Linked DNA regions of Homo sapiens. The protein of the gene in region 3 interacts with the protein of the main gene of each other region in a biochemical or structural test. Each region holds a gene or a part of one and is shown on either strand. Other genes may lie near its edges.

Region 1 (3,210 bases), on a different chromosome or scaffold from region 3:
AGGAACCAAGATACGATACAGCTACTAAAAACTGATGATTGTGGAACAGAGAAACTTGACAGCATTTCATTTCCTTTATGTTCTGATTATACGTTTATCAGAAAACCTGTATCTCTTCTAGTTCAGCTAGAAATTGGTAGAATTCAGGAACTCAAAGGCTTGGCAAAGAACTGTCCTATTATTTGGTATCATCTTACATTTTAGAGAAGTTGCTTGGTTGAGTCATTGTTAAAGCTTTTGCTTCTCTTTTCATTATTGTGGGCCACTATCCACAGACCACATTTCTATAGGCCCTATAACTGCTTTGCCGCACAAATTAAACGCCGGGATGTTTCATACGTATATGCCAGCATTTCAATGCTTGTCAATCAGAGTTTATAAAATATAGGGATTACAACTTGATATTAACATCCAAATCTATTGTGCTCATTTTACGTGTGAAAATGAGAAACCCTCATGCAGACGCTAGATTTCCCAGCCTCTTTGTCACCCTGTTTTTAATTTATCTCCAGGTTTTGAGTCAGTAAAATGATTCCGCTTATCAATTTAATACAGAGATAAAACATATCTATGAATCAGAGTGATCGGAACTAAAATGGATCTACAGGTTGTTTGGCATTCAGCCCAGCCCTGCTGAGGGTTTTAGTGGGGCTAATTTCTCTGTACAGTAGATTCATCCCTGTTCTTAAATTGTGCCTCAGTGAGGGATATGATTTGCTTCACATGAAGAAGTAGACACAGAAGTGCATTGTTTCAGGGAGGAGACTTTAAAATTTTGAAACATTCTTTTTATGCTTACCTTTTTTTTTTCTAGGTATACTTCAAAAGAAATTATCCACATATTGGTCACACTGACCACATGGTTACAAACACTTCCAATGGACAGCCCTCGACCTTAACTATTTTCGAGACAGCACTGTGAATCCAACCAAAATGTCAAGTCCGTTCCGAAGGCATTTTCCACTAGTTTTTGGACTATGTAAACCACATTGTACTTTTTTTTACTTTGGCAACAAATATTTATACATACAAGATGCTAGTTCATTTGAATATTTCTCCCAACTTATCCAAGGATCTCCAGCTCTAACAAAATGGTTTATTTTTATTTAAATGTCAATAGTTGTTTTTTAAAATCCAAATCAGAGGTGCAGGCCACCAGTTAAATGCCGTCTATCAGGTTTTGTGCCTTAAGAGACTACAGAGTCAAAGCTCATTTTTAAAGGAGTAGGACAAAGTTGTCACAGGTTTTTGTTGTTGTTTTTATTGCCCCCAAAATTACATGTTAATTTCCATTTATATCAGGGATTCTATTTACTTGAAGACTGTGAAGTTGCCATTTTGTCTCATTGTTTTCTTTGACATAACTAGGATCCATTATTTCCCCTGAAGGCTTCTTGTTAGAAAATAGTACAGTTACAACCAATAGGAACAACAAAAAGAAAAAGTTTGTGACATTGTAGTAGGGAGTGTGTACCCCTTACTCCCCATCAAAAAAAAAAATGGATACATGGTTAAAGGATAGAAGGGCAATATTTTATCATATGTTCTAAAAGAGAAGGAAGAGAAAATACTACTTTCTCAAAATGGAAGCCCTTAAAGGTGCTTTGATACTGAAGGACACAAATGTGACCGTCCATCCTCCTTTAGAGTTGCATGACTTGGACACGGTAACTGTTGCAGTTTTAGACTCAGCATTGTGACACTTCCCAAGAAGGCCAAACCTCTAACCGACATTCCTGAAATACGTGGCATTATTCTTTTTTGGATTTCTCATTTATGGAAGGCTAACCCTCTGTTGACTGTAAGCCTTTTGGTTTGGGCTGTATTGAAATCCTTTCTAAATTGCATGAATAGGCTCTGCTAACGTGATGAGACAAACTGAAAATTATTGCAAGCATTGACTATAATTATGCAGTACGTTCTCAGGATGCATCCAGGGGTTCATTTTCATGAGCCTGTCCAGGTTAGTTTACTCCTGACCACTAATAGCATTGTCATTTGGGCTTTCTGTTGAATGAATCAACAAACCACAATACTTCCTGGGACCTTTTGTACTTTATTTGAACTATGAGTCTTTAATTTTTCCTGATGATGGTGGCTGTAATATGTTGAGTTCAGTTTACTAAAGGTTTTACTATTATGGTTTGAAGTGGAGTCTCATGACCTCTCAGAATAAGGTGTCACCTCCCTGAAATTGCATATATGTATATAGACATGCACACGTGTGCATTTGTTTGTATACATATATTTGTCCTTCGTATAGCAAGTTTTTTGCTCATCAGCAGAGAGCAACAGATGTTTTATTGAGTGAAGCCTTAAAAAGCACACACCACACACAGCTAACTGCCAAAATACATTGACCGTAGTAGCTGTTCAACTCCTAGTACTTAGAAATACACGTATGGTTAATGTTCAGTCCAACAAACCACACACAGTAAATGTTTATTAATAGTCATGGTTCGTATTTTAGGTGACTGAAATTGCATCAGTGATCATAATGAGGTTTGTTAAAACGATAGCTATATTCAAAATGTCTATATGTTTATTTGGACTTTTGAGGTTAAAGACAGTCATATAAACGTCCTGTTTCTGTTTTAATGTTATCATAGAATTTTTTAATGAAACTAAATTCAATTGAAATAAATGATAGTTTTCATCTCCATTCAGAGATCTGTATTTCTGTGCTTCAAGGGATTCCTGACTCATGTTCTTGCTGATGAATGCCAGTGAGTTTTCCTGAGATCGAAAAATACAGTATCAAAGGATACCTTCTATCATCAACCGGTTCTCTTGGCAAATTAGGTGTACCAAGTATTCTAACGGGTAGATTTCAGTGGGTTTCAGACAGTTTGAAGCAGTTGCTATTTAAGCAAGTCCATTTGCACCATTCTAGGAAGAAAGAGTATTAGCTTATGCCTCAGGCTTGAGCAGTATTAAATGGTTGAGGTTTTTGCTTTTGGTTTTGGTTTTTAAGGTGACTTTGTCCAAAACTAACAAGAAACATCTACCGCTGTTACGCTGAAATCACTATTAAATAATGATTCTCAAAGTGTGGTCCCTGGACCAGCAGCATACCGCATCACCTGGGAACTCGTTAGAAATGCACCTTTTTGTGCCTCACCGCAGATCTACTGAATCAGAAACTCTGGTGGTGGGGGCCAGGAATGTGTGTTTTAACAAGCCATAGGGTGACTTTTTTTAAGGGGCCAT
Region 2 (3,100 bases), on a different chromosome or scaffold from region 3:
TCCCTGAGGACAGCATTACCCAAGCCCACAAAGGCAACGGGCATTGGCGTCGGACACAGGAGGGCTGGTGGGGGCTTCCTGGGACAGAGAGGACCAGTCCTCCTCTTGCTGTGCCACCCCAGGTCAGCCGACTGGCTCAGGGACTGCCTCTTCTGCCTGCAGCTCCCAGGACGAGATGGCTGGGAGGAAAAACTGGGAGGGAGGTGGGGCCTGTCTCCAACCCTGGGGACACTGCAGAGGGATCCCCAAAAGCTCTACTGAATCCCGGAGTCCTCTAAACCACTGGCCAGCCTGGGCCCTGCAAGGCGCAGCTGTGCCGCCCCTGGCTTCTCAGTACACGATCAGGGGCCGCTGGCCCTGCTCCAGTGCTCCAGCCGGTGGGCAGACTGGCCACACCAGGGGCGAGCTTGGGGCGACCACACATGACACGGCACCCAACACAAGGGGGCCATGCACAGGGGGCCTGGTGCCGGCCCGCGGCATCCTGAGTATGTCCCTGGAAAATGTGTGGCCACGGTCTTTGCCTGGGCTCAGAGTCACTGTGAAAATCCAGGTTCTTAAGAAATAACTTTAATGTATTTAGAAACCTCAAAACCGAAATCTCCCTGCCGGGTCCCCTCCCTCCGGCCGGCCCCTTCTCAGAACGTGGGGCACTCCTGGGCACTCAGGGCCCTTCTTGTCCCACTCAGGGGTAGGAAGGGCATAGGAGGAGACCTCGCATTGCCCCCAATAATCGCTATTGGTGCCTCCTGTGCCCATCAGTCCAGGTGGAGTTGCCCCCTGGGTGCAGTGGGGAGGTGGGGCCCAGCAGCTGAGGGGCCCAGCCAGCCAACGGGAATAGGCTGGGCTCCCTGGGACACGGTGTGGCCCCCTCGAGCTTGCCTGGGGGTGCCTCTCTGGGGACATGTGATCTTCCTTCCGTGAAGTGTCTGGAGCCCGGCACCACAGCCACAGGCTCTTGGGAAGCCCCAGGGAACCATGCTGGGTCCTTGAGACCAGCTCCCCACGCTCTCTAGAGCCAGGCACGACCACTTGCTGATTGGAGACAGGCTGTGCTGCCGCCGGCTGGCCTCGCCAGGGCTACACGTCCGTCTCCACCCGCAGACGCTCCATCCTGCGGACATTGCCCTCCACGGCCACACGGCTGGTGATGAAGCGGGCAAAGTCCTCGGGGAACCATCCCGTCTCTCCGTCCCGGAGCCTCTCGCCATAGAGCCACCCTGAACCCGGATAGGGGTGGGAGGGAGGTGAGGGGAAGGCCGTGGGTCCCCCGGCCCCTCTGAGCTGCTATGCCTGAGCACACCAGGGCCAGGCTTCTCCTAGAACTGACCACCTGCTCCTGCTCAGAGCAGACAGCTGCTGAGGCCTTGCTCATGGTCACCGGGCACCCAGCCCCTGCTCAGGTGCTCGCCACTGAGAAGGGTGCTGGGCTGAGCACACCCCACACAGCGCTGCCCGGCATGAGGAGGAGCCCTGCCTGCCCTCTGCAGGCTCGTGCTGGGCCTGGCTGAGCGGGGATCCCCTGGGAGGGCAGAGACACCTCCTCCTCCCCACGTGGGACACAGTGACCATGAACCTGCTTTTGATTCTGAGGTTTGGGGATGTGGGAGTGCTCCCTTTGAGGAAGCCCTCGAGAGAGGGTGAGCACATGGTCAGCCTGCAGCCCGGCATGCTCTGGACCTGGCCAGGCTGGACGCTGACTCACGCCCGCCTGTCCGTTCCCACCCATCTGTGCCCAACGCCCCTGCACTCACCATCCTCCTGCTGCAGAACCAGGACCACGTCCGCCTGCTGCAGTGTGACCTCGTCTGCTTGCTTCGCGAAGAAGGCCTTGGTGATCTCCACCTGGGGCAGGTCTGCATAGGGCAGTGGCCATCACAGGGCTGTCGGGAGGCATGGGCCAGGCTCCACTCCCCAACGGCCTCCAGCAGACACATCCCCCGGGGCCGGGGCACCCCATCCCCCGACTGCCAGGCCCCAGCACAAGGCCAGGTGCCAGGCTCACTTGGGCTACAGTGGGGGCCAAAGTGCCAGCCACGGCAGAGGGCCAGCCCTGCAGGCCCCAGCCCGCACTCACCTCCTTTGCTGGAGAGGCCCTGCCACTGTCTCTCACTGTGTGTGAGCGCCACGATCCACCGTGCCCGGTCACTCCTGGGGACCAGAGACAGCATGAGCCAGGCCTGGAGACCGATCCTGCCCGTCTGATGTTCCTTGACTTCTGACAGCCACCCATGGGGGCCGTGGCAAGGAGATGGGGGTGGTGGGGGTGGGCAGGAGTGGCTGGGCAGACTGTGCCAGGCAGGCTAACCCCCAAGTCACCCCAGCCCCAGGTCACAGAGTTGGGTAGTGGCCACACACCCAGACCCCAGCCTGCTGGACCTGAGGCCACCCCGTTTCCTGGCACTGGGCCCCAGCTCCCTGCCCCCTCCGTTTGCTGTGACAGACTCAGCCTCAGCATCCTCATCTGGAAACGGCCCAGAGCTGTCCTCAGTCAAGACGAGCTGAGAGGGAATATGGAGACTGGCGCACCTGTGTGCCTGGCTTCCACGGGGGGCCCGCAGAGACTCCATCAGTGCCCCCTCCCATTCTGAGTGCCAGGACCACCCTGCTGTCTGAACTGGCCCCTACCGGCCAGGGTCGCTGCACCCCAGCATCACTGCTGTCCACCTGCAGCTGTGCCCTCGGGGCCTCAGGGCTCTCCTGCCTCGGGGCCTCTGCTGAGCAACCCCACACTCCGGCCCCACCTCCCTCTGCTCACATGGGCTAAGCTTTCCTCACGGCACCCCCCGCACCCCACCCCCCACCTCGTTTCCTCCCTTGTTCCCACTCCTGGTGGCCCAACTGTTGGTGCGTCCCCTCCCGGGAACATAAACTCCATGAGGACAAGGCCATTTCTGTTGTTTCTGGCTCTACCTCAGCACCTACAGCAGGGCCAGGTGCACGGTGGGCGTTCAGAGCCAGCCATGCAACAGCGAGCAAGGCAGGGGGACAACCCGGTCCCCATGGAGCTAATGTGCCTGTGGCCTGGGAACAGCCCTCCCGGGAGCCCACTTACGCGGAGTCCGAGGAGAGCAGGAGCTGCTCCTGGCGGCCCTCGCTG
Region 3 (3,751 bases):
GCTAGACTCCGTCTCAAAAAAAAAAAAAGAAAAGAAAAGAAAAAAGAAAGGAAAAAAAAAAGAAAAGAAAGAAAACTTTTTTCTCATATTCTCATTCTCTACAATCCACCATGACCTCAAAGCACTGCTTTAAAAGTTCCCAGGCTGCGCGCGGTGGCTCACGCCTATAATCCTAGCATTTTGGGAGACTGAGGCGGGTGGAGCACTTGAGGTCAGAAGTTCGAGACCAGACTGGTCAAGATGGTGAAACCCCGTCTCTACTAAAAATACAAAAATTAGCCAGGCGCAATGGTGGGTGCCTGTAGTCCCAGCTACTCGGGAGGCTGAGGCAGGAGAATCGCTTGAACCCGGGAGGTGGAGATTGCAGTGAGCTGAGATCGCGCCATTGCACTCCAGCCCAGGCAACAGAGTGAGACTCCGTCTCAAAAACAAACAAACAAACAAACAAACAAAAACAAGTCTCCCAGCCTGGCTCCAAAGTGGTTCTGGACGCGTCCTCCTCCAACTCCACTTTACCCAGTCTCTCCCCCACCCCTCCCCCACAGGCTGACTCCATAACAATCTATTAATAGAAACTACCTACGAGTTTCTGATACCCTGCCAGGAGCTCCTTGGCACGCAGCGGGTGCACCTAGAACCTTCCAGCCCGTCCCATCCCCGACCCTCCTCCACCCCAGGCATCCGTAGAACGCACTTCGGGAAGAGCTCCCGCCAGCCCACCCGCCTCACCGAAGGCCCTCTTGGGCTGCACCAGGCGCAGGGTGAAGGGCTGGGACTTGGGCAGCTCCCGGAGCATCTTGGCCACCTCGTAGTGGCGGCAGCCCACAATGGAGTGGTCGTTGATGGCTTCGATGCTGTCACCCACGCACACTGCCTCGATCCGGTTGATGATACTGCCTTCCTTGATTCTCTGCAGGGATCCAGCGTCGCTGGCAGGGCAACCCCAGCCACCCGCCTCCAATCCGCAGAACCCACGTCGACCCAGAGTGGGGGGGGCAGTTGCTGGACCCCAGGAAGCCACCCGCCCACCCCCTCCCGGGCACCTTGATGAAGGCGTAGCCAGCCCCGTTGTCCGTGATGGTCAGCCCCAGAGCATCCTCTGTCTTAGTGACCTCCACCTCCTTGGTCTCGCCTCGCACGTGGGCAAAGATGAAGTCCTCCAGGCCTATCTGACCCCCCAGGAGCTTCTGCATGTCCACTTTGTGGCTGTTGAGGGTGCAGAATAAAATCTTCCCGGGGGAGAAGGAGCCTAGAGTTAGCCAGGGCATGCATCCCCCCACGCAGCCACCCTGTCTGCGCAGGCCCCTGCCCCCAGCGACCAGGATCCCAGCCCATGGGAAAGGGCAGGGCGTGGGACCCCCAGAACAGAGAGAGGAGGGAGAAGGAGACTTCCAGCAGGTGGAGACCCCTCTCCATACCCCGGGACCTCCAGCCCCCAGACCTCCAGGTTTAATCTGCTGGCGCCCCCTGGGGGCTGCAAACCAAACGAACCCGGATTGGAAAAACGCCCAGGAACCCCCCAACCCCACGGCGGCCTCAAACTTCCCATCCCTAAGGGGGCCATCTGGAACCCCAGACCCCAGCTACGCCCAGGAAGCACAGAGGCGCTTCCCCGAGGGCTGGGGTCCGCTCCAAGCTAGGTCTGCGCAGAGGATTTTCTGGAATATCTAGGGGTCCGCTAGTCCTAAGACCTGCCCATCTTTTGCGCAGAGCGTGCAAAGGGGGCCCCTGGGAGTGTGGCACCCCGGGATCTGAGGGCTGGGTCTCTGAGATCCGGCGATTAGGCGGCCACCCCGACGTCTGGGATCCGGGGATCTGGGGTCTCCCGTCCAGGGTCCAAGCTCCCTACCCCTCACCCCATCAGGCGGGTGGTCTTGGGCGCCGGTGTCCGGGCTCCTTACCTCGGTGGGCGCGATCCCGAAGGCTTCGGCGATCTTGGCGTACAGCTCGCGGACGTTGGTGAAGCCCTCGATCTTGCCCGTGGGGCTCCCGTGCGCCAGCTGCGTGCGGAAGACGAGGCGCGGGCGGGCGCGGGGCGCGGCCGGGGGCTCCGAGGGCGCGGGCGGGGGCGCAGACGCGCGCGGGGTCTCGGTCCCCCGGGCCTCCCGGGCCGCTGCTCCCTCCATGGCGGGAGAAGTTCGGCCACCCACCCGGGCCCTCGCCGCCGCCGCCGGATCCGCCGCTTCCTGCAGCCTCCCCTCCCCCGGCCCAGGGCGCGACAGCCGAGACGCCCGGGTAAGGGGATCTGGGAACCCGAGCCTCCCGGGAAGGCGACACCGCGGGGTGCGCAGGGGTGGGTCGGGCCCCAGGTGTCCGGGCCCTGCCAGGGCCAGCTGTGCCCTCCCCGGGGATACCCGCAGTCCGGGGGGGCCTGAGCTCAGGACCCTGGAAGAACAGGGACCACAAATAAGGACAGGGACAGGCCTGGAGCGGTGGCTCACGTCTGTAATTCCAGCACTTTGGGAGGCCGAAGCGGGCAGATGACCTGAGGTCAGGAGTTCAAGACTAGCCTGGCCAACATGGTGAAACCCCGTCTCTACCAAAAATACAAAAATCAGCCGGACGTGGTGGCGGGCGCCTGTAATCCCAGCTACTCGGGAGGCTGAGATCTCTTGAACCCGGGAGGCGGAGGTGGCAGTGAGCTGAGATGGCGCCATTACACTCCAGCCTGGGCAACAAAGCGAGACTCCGTCGCAAAAAAAAAAAAAAAAAAAAAAAAAAGGACAGGGACAGCTGAGGGTGCTGGAGCACTCACCCTCTGCTAGGCGAGGTCATTGTTTTATTTTATTTTATTATTTTTATTTATTTATTTATTTTGAGCTGGAGTCTCGCTCTGTCACCCAGTTTGGAGTTCAGTGGCACGATCTCAGCTCACTGCAACCTCTGCCCACCAGGTTCAAGCAATTCTCATGCCTCGGCCTCCCCAGTAGCTGGGATTACAGGCATATACCACCATGCCCGGCTAATTTTTTTGTATTTTTAATAGAGATGAGGTTTCACCATGTTGGCCAGGATGGTCTTGAACTCCTGACCTCAGGAATCCACCCACCTTAGCCTCCAAAAAAGCTGGGATTACAGGCATGAGCCACCACGCCCAGCCTTTGGTTTGTTTGTTTGATTTTGGAGACGGAGTCTAGCTCTGTCGCCCAGGCTGGAGTGCAATGGCGTGATCTCGGCTCACTGCAACCTCCACCTCCTGGGTTCAAGCGATTCTCCTGCCTCAGCCCCCCTAGTAGCTGGGATTATAGGCGCACACCACCATGCCTGGCTAATTTTTGTATTTTTTAGTAGAGACAGGGTTTCACCATGTTGGTCAGGCTTGTCTCGAACCCCTGACCTCAGGTGATCCACCTGCCTTGGCCTCCCAAAGTGCTGGGATTACAGGCGTGAACCACCGCACCCGGCCGCATTCAGTTTTTTAAAATTTAATTTAGAAACATGATTAATTTTTTGTACAGTTGGGATCTCACTGTGTTGCCCAGGCTGGTCTCAAACTCAAGACCAGGAGGTTCAGGCCATCCTTCAGCCTTGGCCTCCCAAAGTGCTAGGATTACAGATGTGAGCCACTGTGCCCAGCTTCTCTTCAGCATTTAAAGCTACCATCTGACATATCAGATATTTTATTTTATTTTATTTTTTGAGACGGAGTCTCTCTCTCTTGCCAAGGCTGGAGTGCAGTGGCACGATCTCGGCTCACTGCAACCTCTGCCTCCCGGGTTCAAGCGATTCTTCTGCCTCAGCCTCCTGATTA

What was found.
Region 1: the proteins of GIPC3 (region 3) and ABCC4 interact in a test that uses a peptide from one of them, tested with the Homo sapiens proteins (one large-scale study listed by IntAct).
Region 2: the proteins of GIPC3 (region 3) and ARHGEF16 interact in a test that uses a peptide from one of them, tested with the Homo sapiens proteins (one large-scale study listed by IntAct).

Annotation. Positions count from the first base shown.
Region 1 is NC_000013.11:95,019,287-95,022,496, reverse strand, and holds the end of ABCC4 (ATP-binding cassette sub-family C member 4), read left to right. Parts: intron 1-814; coding exon 815-922; 3' UTR 923-2,662; downstream 2,663-3,210. UniProt on the Homo sapiens protein: ATP-dependent transporter of the ATP-binding cassette (ABC) family that actively extrudes physiological compounds and xenobiotics from cells.
Region 2 is NC_000001.11:3,478,568-3,481,667, reverse strand, and holds the end of ARHGEF16 (rho guanine nucleotide exchange factor 16), read right to left. Parts: coding exon 3,056-3,100; intron 2,152-3,055; coding exon 2,078-2,151; intron 1,857-2,077; coding exon 1,755-1,856; intron 1,221-1,754; coding exon 1,081-1,220; 3' UTR 555-1,080; downstream 1-554. UniProt on the Homo sapiens protein: Guanyl-nucleotide exchange factor of the RHOG GTPase stimulating the exchange of RHOG-associated GDP for GTP. May play a role in chemotactic cell migration by mediating the activation of RAC1 by EPHA2.
Region 3 is NC_000019.10:3,583,973-3,587,723, reverse strand, and holds the start of GIPC3 (PDZ domain-containing protein GIPC3), read right to left. Parts: upstream 2,247-3,751; 5' UTR 2,127-2,246; coding exon 1,902-2,126; intron 1,230-1,901; coding exon 1,044-1,229; intron 911-1,043; coding exon 730-910; intron 1-729.